2 separate regions of the Homo sapiens genome follow, and region 2 is linked to region 1. The links come from fine-mapping of genetic effects on gene expression. A gene starts in region 1. The other region holds a variant in brackets. All regions are shown on one strand. Distances are between the middles of the regions.

The links. PIP is the estimated chance that this variant, and not a neighbour inherited with it, causes the effect. A credible set is the group of variants that fine-mapping cannot tell apart.
Region 2: its variant is the best candidate, but not a certain one, in a credible set for the expression of PPM1M in whole blood (TOPMed, PIP 0.82).

The regions. Positions count from the first base shown.
Region 1 is chr3:52,242,607-52,247,978 of GRCh38, forward strand. It overlaps PPM1M (protein phosphatase, Mg2+/Mn2+ dependent 1M), which reads left to right and starts at 3,153. Exons shown (of 10, transcript NM_144641.4): 1 at 3,153-3,442; 2 at 4,089-4,206; 3 at 4,368-4,622; 4 at 5,076-5,188. The coding sequence starts at 3,219. RefSeq lists silencers at 3,027-3,396, 3,437-3,496.
Region 2 is chr3:52,205,747-52,211,118 of GRCh38, forward strand. It overlaps ALAS1 (5'-aminolevulinate synthase 1), which reads left to right. Exons shown (of 12, transcript NM_000688.6): 7 at 93-277; 8 at 826-1,005; 9 at 2,337-2,501. Among named protein-coding and RNA genes, the nearest start is that of ALAS1, 10 kb to the left of the region's middle. RefSeq lists an enhancer at 4,987-5,281. The variant G/A (reference allele first, on the strand shown) is at 2,341.

The DNA.
Region 1 (5,372 bases):
AAAAGGCTGGGTGTGGTGGCTCATGCCTGTAATCCTAGCACGCCTGTAATCCCAGCACGCCTGTAATCCTAGCACGCCTGTAATCCCAGCACGCCTGTAATCCCAGCACTTTGGGAGGCCGAGGCGGGTGGATCACCTGAGGTCTGGAGTTCGAGACCAGCCTGATCAATATGGCGAAACCCCATCTCTACTAAAAATACAAAAATTAGCTGGGCATGGTGGCGGGTGCCTGTAATCCCAGCTACTGGGGAGGCTGAGGCAGGAGAATTGCTTGAACTCGGGAGGCGGAGGTTGCAGTGAGCCGGGATTGTGCCAGTGCACTCTAGCCTGGGTGACAGAGCAAGACTCCATCTCAAAAAAAAAAAAAAAAAAAAAAAAAAAAAAAGGAATGCCAGTGTTGTGTGGCTCAGTCTCCAAGCTTAACTCTCCCTTTAGCATAACAAATTTGGGGGTCCTGAAATTTTTATTTTCCTTTATGAAAAGATCAATAATCCATTTGCATAAAAAATAAAGTCTATATGGAAAAAGCCACCATCACAGCCAAAACACAAATAACAAACTGTAACTTGTTACAAACAGCATACTTGTAACTCATTTCAAAATAAAGAGCTGATTTCTCTAATATATAAAGAGCTCTCATAAGTCAATAAGAAAAAGACCAATGGTAGCCAGGCGTGGTGGCACATGCCTGTAATCTCAGCTACTCAGGAGGCTGAGGCAGGAGAATCACTTAAGCCCAGGAGGCAGAGGTCATGGGGAGCCGAGATCACACCATTGCACTCCAGCCTGGGCAACAAGAGCGAAACTCTGTATCAAAAAAAAAAAAAAGAAAAAGAAAAAGACAAATGGCCCAGTAGAAAGTGTGGCAAAGGATACAAACAGACCATTCACAGAAAAAGATAGATAAATAACATCTCTCAGGAAAGTACCTCCCAGTCACCCTTTGTTGGAAAGTTGTTGAAGGATGCACTTCAGCAAAATGAGGGAGTAAACCAAGAGACATAGGCTTAAGATCCAGGCAAGAGTGAGGCGCTTAGGAGCCCAGGAAGCCAGAAGAGCCTGGTAGCACTGAAGGAACACTCAGGCCACCTTGGAACAGAGAGGATGGGATTGCCATGTGGTTCCACATGGCTCTGAAAATAGACAATGGCTAAGCTGTGCAACAGACTGCCTATGACATTTGGTTGCCCAGAGCTTCTGTGAAAATACTTCAGGACAAGGCTTTCCCCCACCCAGGGGTGGGTTGGGGAATAGAGTGTATGCACTTTGTTTTGTCCAATTTTAGACTTTAAAATCCTCTGAGGCATCAACTGGTGAGGGTGAGGAAGTGGCCCCATAGACTGAATTGGGCCTGCCCCACCCTGGTACCTTTCTGTTCTGTCACAGTGACAATTCACAGCTCAGAGGTCCTTTGGGAAACTTTCTCTGACATCGCCCCTATCCTCTTGCCAGCTGGATGAAGCAGCATCCACCAGAACTGCTACCATCACTGCAGGGGGCTTGGTGGGCAGAGGCCTGGCTTGTCTCCATTAGCACTGCGTTCCTGTGCCCAGTGTGGCCCCAGCAGACACTGTGGGTTCAGTCAATCAGCCCCCAGGCTGGTCTGGGACTGAGTCATCGGAGGGAGTGGGTGTTGGGCACAGGTCCCTGCCCTAAGAACCTTCCTTCTTGGGCCCGAGGAACTCCCACTGGGGCAGGACTAGCTGCTGGGAGGAAGTAGGGCTTACTGAGCGTCTACCTGGGCTAGGGAGTGGAGGTGAAGGTGGACTCCTCATACAGCTCATATGCAGGCACTGGGCTGTGGAGCCTTAGCCGCTTTTAATTGGCAAGCCCTGGCTTCCTGGAGGAGGAAAGGGGAAGAGAAGTGCCCTGGGGGCGAGGATTGAGTCAGCTGCATTGTCATAATGGAAATAGTACAGCCCTGGGTGTCCAAGACTTCCCCTCCATGGGCCTCAGAATCGTCCATATGATGTAACACTCTTTTTTTTGAGACTGAGTCTCGCTCTGTTGCCCTGGCTGGAGTGCAGTGGCTCCATCTCGGCTCACTGCAACTTCTGCCTCCTGGGTTCAACCGATTCTTGTGCCCCAGCCTTCTGAGTAACTGGGATTACAGGCGCACACCACCACGCTTGGCTAATTTTTAGTACAGACGGGGTTTCACCATGTTGGCCAGGCTGGTCTCGAACTCCTGACCTCAAGTGATCCGCCCGCCTCGGCCTCCCAAAGCACTGGGATTACAGGCGTGAGCCACTGCCTCCGGCCAAAGTAACACTTTTGCACAGGGAGTTGGACTTGAGTGACAAATGGGTGACAAAGTGCTTTGTTAACTCGCAGATGTGAAGGGGACACTGCGGCTGACCGCCTGGTGACAGCTAGCCAGTGGTTGAGAGACCGCAAGATGGTTCCTCGTCTTTCACTTCCCTCCGTCCCAGGTCTGAACTCGGACCAGCTGGAGCCTTTGGGGGACCACGGATTCCCCTTTACACTCACACAGATTTCTCTTGTCCGTCACTCACTCACAGTCCAGTAAGGATCCTGCTGTCTATTCCGCGAAGACATCTTGAATGCAGGGACAGCCATTTGGAAGACTGTCCTCGAGGGTGGCAGCAGCCTCTCAGGACGGGGAAAGCCAAGGTGCCCACTAAGCCCGTCTGGGGTGGAGGGTGGCAGGCCGGGGTGGAGAGGATTGGAGGCCGCCTGAAGGAACCTGTGCTCGGTGGCATTTACTCAATGTGGGGGTCTGACACCTCCCAGCTCATTTTGTCCCCATCTTCCCCTTGCGTCAGGTCCCCACCCAGCAGGAGGAGGTCCGAGGATCTGCGCGACGCTGGCCCCGCGGAGTGTGGGGGACTTTTCCTCTCAACCACCAGTGCCCCGCAAGCGTGGGTGAACAGTCCTCCCTGGCTACTGTGGGACGCTGGGCAGGCGACTTCGCCTCTCTAGGCCTCGGTTTTCCTGCTTGTCAAATGGGGCTGATGCCGGCGTGGGCTTCTTCAGGCGGTCGCGAGCGTTGACCCCTGGAGTCAGCGAACCAGCCGCGCACGCACTCCCGGGCGGAGGTCGGGGCTGGGGGGCGACGCCTCCCGTCTGCGCGCCCCCGGCCCCGCCTCCCGCCGGCGCACCCCTCCCTCGGCTCCGCCCGCGGCCCGCTTCTTCCTCCCGCGGGCGGCCCAGCCCTAGCGCCCCGCGCTCCGCGGGCAGCCCCCTGCCGCCGCGCCATGTCCGCCGGCTGGTTCCGGCGCCGCTTCCTGCCTGGGGAGCCGCTCCCCGCGCCGCGGCCGCCTGGGCCGCATGCCAGCCCCGTGCCCTACCGACGGCCCCGCTTCCTTCGCGGCTCCAGCTCCAGCCCCGGGGCGGCCGACGCCTCGCGCCGCCCAGACTCCCGGCCCGTGCGCAGCCCCGCACGAGGACGCACGCTACCCTGGAATGCAGGCTACGCCGAGTGAGTGCCCCTCCCCGACCCCCAGCTCAGGCCCGGGCCTGAACCCGCTTCGGGTCCTGCGCCCGCCTAGAAAGCGGGAGGAGCTGAGTGACAGTCCCCACCCACCTGTGGACAGCCCCTTCTTGCCCTCACCTCCGAATCCTGACAACTTCCCGGTCATCCCGACCCAGCGTTTTCCTTGGGATTCCGACCTCCCCCTCAGAGAAGACAGGAGGTCGGGAAGGACCTGCAGCCCAGGGGCTTCCAAGATGAGGCCCAGAGACTCGGTAGAGTTCCAGCATTCGGGGCTTTGGAGATTTCCCCTCGCCCTCTACCCCCACCATCTCACCCTGGGTATGACCTGCGCTGTATGGGACAGGGCTTTGGGCTGCGACAGGACAGGGGCAGGAATGGCAACCTACCCTTACCGTCTAGCCCTGGGTCACCAGGTAGGCTCCAGAGGAGCTGGGCCCTGACTTTTACCTTAGCCATGAGGCCAGTGAAGTTAGGAAGCTTACATCGTGGTTGTCTAAGTGTGTGTTAGGGACAGCACTGGGGAGCTGTTGCCCCAGAGGGAGGGGTCTTCTCCCTGTGCTGGCTTGGGTCCCTGTGCCCATGGGGACATAGGTGTGTCCCTGGAGGGTCGCTTACCATTTCCCGGCCTCAGGATTATCAATGCAGAGAAATCTGAATTCAATGAGGATCAAGCCGCCTGTGGGAAGCTGTGCATCCGGAGATGTGAGTTTGGGGCTGAAGAAGAGTGGCTGACCCTGTGCCCAGAGGAGGTGAGTGCAGTCTGAGTTCTTGGCTGGAATCCCTCCGACAGGCTGGGGCCACGACCTGCAGGCTGAGGTTCTTACCCTGCTGCCCCAGGTCCTAGTTAGGTTGCGTCAGGGGACAAGTGGGGAAGTCAGGCAGAGGCTGACACTGAGCCCTTCCTGTGCAGTTCCTGACAGGCCATTACTGGGCACTGTTCGATGGGCACGGCGGTCCTGCAGCAGCCATCTTGGCTGCCAACACCCTGCACTCCTGCTTGCGCCGGCAGCTGGAGGCCGTGGTGGAAGGCTTGGTGGCCACTCAGCCCCCCATGCACCTCAATGGCCGCTGCATCTGCCCCAGTGACCCTCAGTTTGTGGAGGAAAAGGGCATCAGGGCAGAAGACTTGGTGATCGGGGCATTGGAGAGTGCCTTTCAGGAATGTGTGAGTGTGTGGCTTTTGGCTGGGGAAGAAGTGGAGATTTTGCCCCGGGGATCTCAGGAAATGGCATCTCTGTATACCCATGGTCATCACACCAGATCCTTGGATTGGGAGGATGAGATTGGGTTGGTTGGATTGTTACTAACAGCCATCACTATCAGCATAACCCCTCTCATTTATCCAGCACCTACTGTGTGCTAACTGCTTTTACCTGCATCATCTAATTGAATACCCTATTGGTCCTTGGTGCAGGGGCTGGTTTCTCTTCCTATTTTGAGTAGCACTTCCCTTGTCTAGATCTCCTGACTGCAGGGATCTTGGAGGTATGGCTGGACTTTGGGCTGGGACTGTCAGGCCTGCTGGTAGAAGTGAACTGTAGGGTAGGGTGGGGATTGAGAGACAAAGTAGTATGGTGGCAGAACAGGCAGCAGCTAAGGTGGCCTCGGTTTTCCCCAGGATGAGGTGATCGGGCGGGAGCTGGAGGCCTCAGGCCAGATGGGCGGCTGCACAGCCCTGGTGGCTGTGTCCCTGCAGGGAAAGCTGTACATGGCCAATGCTGGGGATAGCAGGTGAGTCACCCCTTGGAGGGTGGGCAAGGGTGGGATGGGGAGGGCATAAGCAGCAATGGGGACAAGCAAAGGTGGCTGGAAGTGGAGGGATAGTAGGAAGGATTGACTGGCTGAATTGTGTGTGTACTTGTTATGTGTCGAGTGTGGACAGTGGCTGCCGGGGAGGGCAGGGACCTCAAAGGCC
Region 2 (5,372 bases), 37 kb before region 1:
TCAGTCTCCTGGATCCTAGAAAGGGGAAAAAATTCACATGGTGTTGAGAACCATGAGCTTTATTTTCTGGTTTTGTTTGTATTTTTAAACAGGGACACTTTGAAACAACATGGTGCTGGGGCAGGTGGTACTAGAAATATTTCTGGAACTAGTAAATTCCATGTGGACTTAGAGCGGGAGCTGGCAGACCTCCATGGGAAAGATGCCGCACTCTTGTTTTCCTCGTGCTTTGTGGCCAATGACTCAACCCTCTTCACCCTGGCTAAGATGATGCCAGGTAAGGAAGCCTGGCATGAGTGCCTTCGAGTTTTTTGGGTTTCTTAGTAATAACAAGAATATTGGCAACAAAGAAGCCTTACCAGAACCTCTCAATTGAAAATCATAATCCTATCTGGGCATTTGTTCTGGGGTCAAGCATGAAATGCTGACTGTACATTATGGGTTCCAGGAGAACGTGATACCAGTGAAAATTCAAACTTGAAACGTCTCATCCTTGAGCTAATTGCCTCAAATATGTTTTGTATTCTAAGATGATCCTTTGGAGAAGTCTCTTAATCATTTAGTTAGCTCTTGATTGAGTTTGGAGTGAGGCAGTCAGATTTAAGAGCAGATTAATGGCCTGCCACAAGGTTATTCTACACCTTTGGGCCTTCTCACAAGGGAAGCACTAACTAGTTATTTTGCCAGGAAGAAACTGGCACACAGTGTCTTTTTCCTACTAGGCATTTTCAAAGCATCATTTCCAAGGAAAAGTCTGTTGTCTTTCTCTAGGAAATAATTTGTCTTCGATGCACATGGCAATAAATAGCATTTTTGTTGTCTTAGGCTGTGAGATTTACTCTGATTCTGGGAACCATGCCTCCATGATCCAAGGGATTCGAAACAGCCGAGTGCCAAAGTACATCTTCCGCCACAATGATGTCAGCCACCTCAGAGAACTGCTGCAAAGATCTGACCCCTCAGTCCCCAAGATTGTGGCATTTGAAACTGTCCATTCAATGGATGGTAAGTGTGGATAGAGGTTCCTCTGAAACCTAAGATGAAAAACTATGCCTGAACTCTTTAAAAGTATGGTGTTTTGTTGTGTTTTTTAATTTTTTTTTTTTGTGACCGATCCTCGCTCTGTTGCCCAGGCAGGAGTGCAGTGGTGCGATCTCGACTCACTGCAAGCTCCGCCTCCCGGGTTCACGTCATTCTCCTGCCTCAGCCTCCCGAGTAGCTGGGACTACAGACACCTGCCACCACGCCTGGCTAATTTTTTTTTTTTTTTTTTTTGAGACGGAGTCTCCCTCTGTCACCCAGGCTGGAGTGCAGTGGCGTGATCTCGGCTCACTGCAAGCTCCACTTCCTGGGTTCACGCCATTCTCCTGCCTCAGCCTCCTGAGTAGCTGGGACTACAGGCGCCTGCCACCACGCCCAGCTAATTTTTTGTATTTTTAGTAGAGACAGGGTTTCACCATGTTAGCTAGGATGGTCTCGATCTACTGACCTTGTGATCTGCCCGCCTCAGCCTCCCAAAGAGCTGGAATTACAGGTGTGAGCCACCGCACCTGGCCTAACTTTTTGTATTTTTAGTAGACGGGGTTTCACTGTGTTAGTCAGGATGGTCTCAATCTCCTGACCTTGTGATCCGCCCACCTTGGCGTCCCAAAGTGCTGGGATTACAGGCGTGAGCCACCGCGCCTGGCCTGTTGTGTTTTTTAATTTTCTTTTCCTTTCTGCCAGGATTTTTTTTTTTCTTCTTCCAACTTTTAGGTTCAGTGGGTACATGTGCGGGTTTATTATATGGGTAAATTATGTGTCACAGGGTGTTGGTGTACCAATTATTTCATCACCTAGGTAGTAAGCATAGTACCCAATGGTAGTTTTTGATCTCACCCTCCTCCCACCCTCCACCCTCAAGTCGGTCCCTGGTGTCTGTTGTTCCCTTCTTTGTGTCCATGTGTTCTCAGTGTTTAGCTCCCACTTATAAGTGAGAGCGATATTTGGTTTTTCCGTTCCTGTATTAATTCACTTAGGATGGCCTCTAGCTCCATCCGTATTGCTGTAAAGGACATGGTCTCATTCTTTTTTTATTGCTGTGTAGTATTGCATTCTGCCAAGATTTGTAATTGGTGGACTTTTTTCTAATAGATTTGGGTGAAAGTGGATTTTCTATTCTGGCTTTTACTAGGCTCTGGGACCCCAGGTAACCTAGAAATTAGAGGAAGTTCATTTTCTTTCCAATATTGAAAATGATACCTTAGAATAGAAGTTTACGTTGTTCTGACTCTAACCAAAACAGAAATTTCTGAAGCGGCAAAAGCTCTTCAGAGCAGTCTCTGGTCTTTCCTCAGGGGC[G/A]GTGTGCCCACTGGAAGAGCTGTGTGATGTGGCCCATGAGTTTGGAGCAATCACCTTCGTGGATGAGGTCCACGCAGTGGGGCTTTATGGGGCTCGAGGCGGAGGGATTGGGGATCGGGATGGAGTCATGCCAAAAATGGACATCATTTCTGGAACACTTGGTATGTATACATTGTATTACATACACTAAAATTCCATTATCCTAACAAGGCCAAGGACTAACTAGTCTAACTGGGATCAGGTGAGGAGACAGCCTGACAGCATATGAAGCCTGGGCCACTCTTTCTTTTGGCCCAGCTTAGTGGAATCCCTTGGGTCATGGAGGCATGGCTCTTAGAATCAAAGTAAATCCCACAGCCTAACACACTGATAGACCATTTATTGCTATCTGAGCTCATTTCAGACATAGTTGTGGGTCTAGCCCCATGCCATGGCAAGAGCCTGTACTCTCTGTGCCTCAGGCTGTTCTTAATTAAAAAGAAAAAGGAATTCTAGTACTTTTCTCCTGGAGCACTTGTTAGGTTCAGGTGTTGTGAAGTGCTGAACTCCGTGCCTGCCACGTGGGAACATTCTAATTCATCCTGGTTTTCCTCTGCTCTTCCTCATACAGAGGCTATGTCTCGTGGTAGATGGGAGCTAGACTTTGGAGCCCTGCCACCTCACTAGTTGTGTGACCTTGAGTTGGTAGTTAACCTTTCTATACCTCAGTTTCATCATCAATATAATGGAGAAAACAATAGGACCTAAATCAAAATATATGTGGAGAAGGTAAATAAGTTGTATGCAAACAGTTATTATAAACATTCCCTCTGAGAACCTATGAGAACCCTAAAGAGACGAAAATTACATAAATTTGAAGAATTTTTGTAATTTTGAAGAATTTTTTTAAGCCTTCAGAAGTGGGTAAGGCAGTTGGAAACCCATCTAGCAGTTAGCTAAAATGCCAGTTTATAGCCTATGCTTGGTAAAGGAAGGGCAGGCTTTTTAAAAAGCGTCCTTCAGCACTGTCAAGGGGTATGAGAACCTAGTGCAGACCCAGAAAGCCTGGGAGTTCTAAGGGTGGAACCACTACCAGGAGAAAAACACCTGATCATGTGTCTTAATTCAAGAAGCTCTTTTCTTTTTTTTCTTTTTTTTCCGAGATGGAGTGTCACTCTGTTGCCCAGGCTGGAGTGCAGTGGCGCGATCTCAGCTCACTGCAAGCTCCACCTCCCAGGTTCATGCCATTCTACTGCCTCAGCCTCCCAAGTAGCTGGGACTACAGGCACCCGCCACCATGCCTGGCTAATTTTTTGTATTTGTAGTAGAGACGGGGTTTCACCGTGTTAGCCAGAATGTTCTCAATCTCCTGACCACGTGATCTGCCCGCCTCAGCCTCCCAAAGTGCTGGGATTACAGGCGTGAGCCACCACACCCGGCCAGAAGCTCTTTTCTTTTAAGGATGTCTCCTGATGTGGGCTCTTTGAAGGTATGGTCATTGTGAGATGGAAAAGGCTGGAGAGAGAAACTTTATACCATAGGAGATTGAACCAACCCAGCTTTGCATGTGGTTTTAGCAAAAACATTAATTATAGAATGTTATGTTAAGATCTATGAAGACTCTTCTGGAGTTCTTTTTGTTTTTTGAGACAGGCTCTCACTCTGTGCCCAGGTGTGATCACAGCTCATCTGCAGCCTCCACCTCCTGGGCTCAAGTGATCCTCCCACCTCAACCTCCTGAATAACTGAGACTACAGGTGTGCGCTAGCATGCCTGGCTAATTTTTGTATTTTTAGTAGAAACGGGGTTTCACCATGTTGGCCAGGCTGGTCTCTAACTCCTGAGCTCAAGTGATTTGCCCCCCTCGGCCTCCCAAAGTTCTGGGACTATAGGTGTGAGCCACTGCACCTGGCCTCTTCTGGAGTTTTTAATCCTGAAACTTGAGATGTAGATCACACAAAAGGACTCAATGAGAATTGAAAACCAAGTCTGGCCCTAAATCAATCCTAATGCATTAATTGTCAAGAGTTTTGTTCTTAAGTAGGAAATAACACCAGTCATACCAAAACAGTTAATGCCTTAGCTGGGTAAAATTCCAGCCTCTGGGATAATGTTCCCTGTGGGAGGATGGTACAAGCACTGCAGAGCCAGTCTTGTTCCAAAGAGCACATGCAGTGCAGACATGGGGAGTGGAGCTGTGCTGGCTGTCAGAGCAGCAAGCCTGGGTGAGAAAGGGAAAGGAGAATAAGATGGTGGGAAGGGAGGCAGCAGCAGGGTATTTGGGCACACTGGGACCAGTCACTGAGGTGTCAGGTCTGATTGGAAGACCTGCATTTTGATCCTGGTTAGACACCAGCTTGGCCATATGACTTTGGGCAAGACCCTTTTGTAACTTTCCTTAGCTTTTTTACCCTTTTAAAAGTGAGTAGCCAGGCACGATAGCTCACACCTGAATCCCAGCACTTTGGGAGGCTGAGACAGGAGGATCACTTGAACCCAGGAGTTTGAGACCAGCCCTGGGCAACGAAGCATGGCCTCCTCTCTACACAAAATAAAAATTTAAAAAATCAGCCAGGCATGGTGGTGTACACCTGTCCTAGCTACTTGGGAGGCTGAGGCGGAAGGAATACTTGAGCCCAGGAGGTTGAGGCTGCAGAGAGCTATGATCATGCCACTGCACTCCAGCCTGGGTGACAGAGCAAGACCCTGTCTCTAAAAAAAAAAGGAAGATTAGATATCCTTTTATAGTCATGCATTGCTTAACGATGGGGGATGTGTTCTGAGAATTGCATCACTAGGCGATTTCATCATTGTGCAAACACCATAGAGTGTACTTACATAAACCTAGATTATATAGCCTACCGCACACCTAGGCTTTGTGGTATGGCGTGTTGCTCCTAGGCTGCAAACCTGTACAACATGTTACTGTATTGGATACTGTTGGCAACACCATGGTATTTGTGTATCTAAACATACCTAAACATAGAAAAGGTACAGTAAAAATACAGTATTATAATCTTATGGGACCACCATCATATATGTGGTCGTCATTG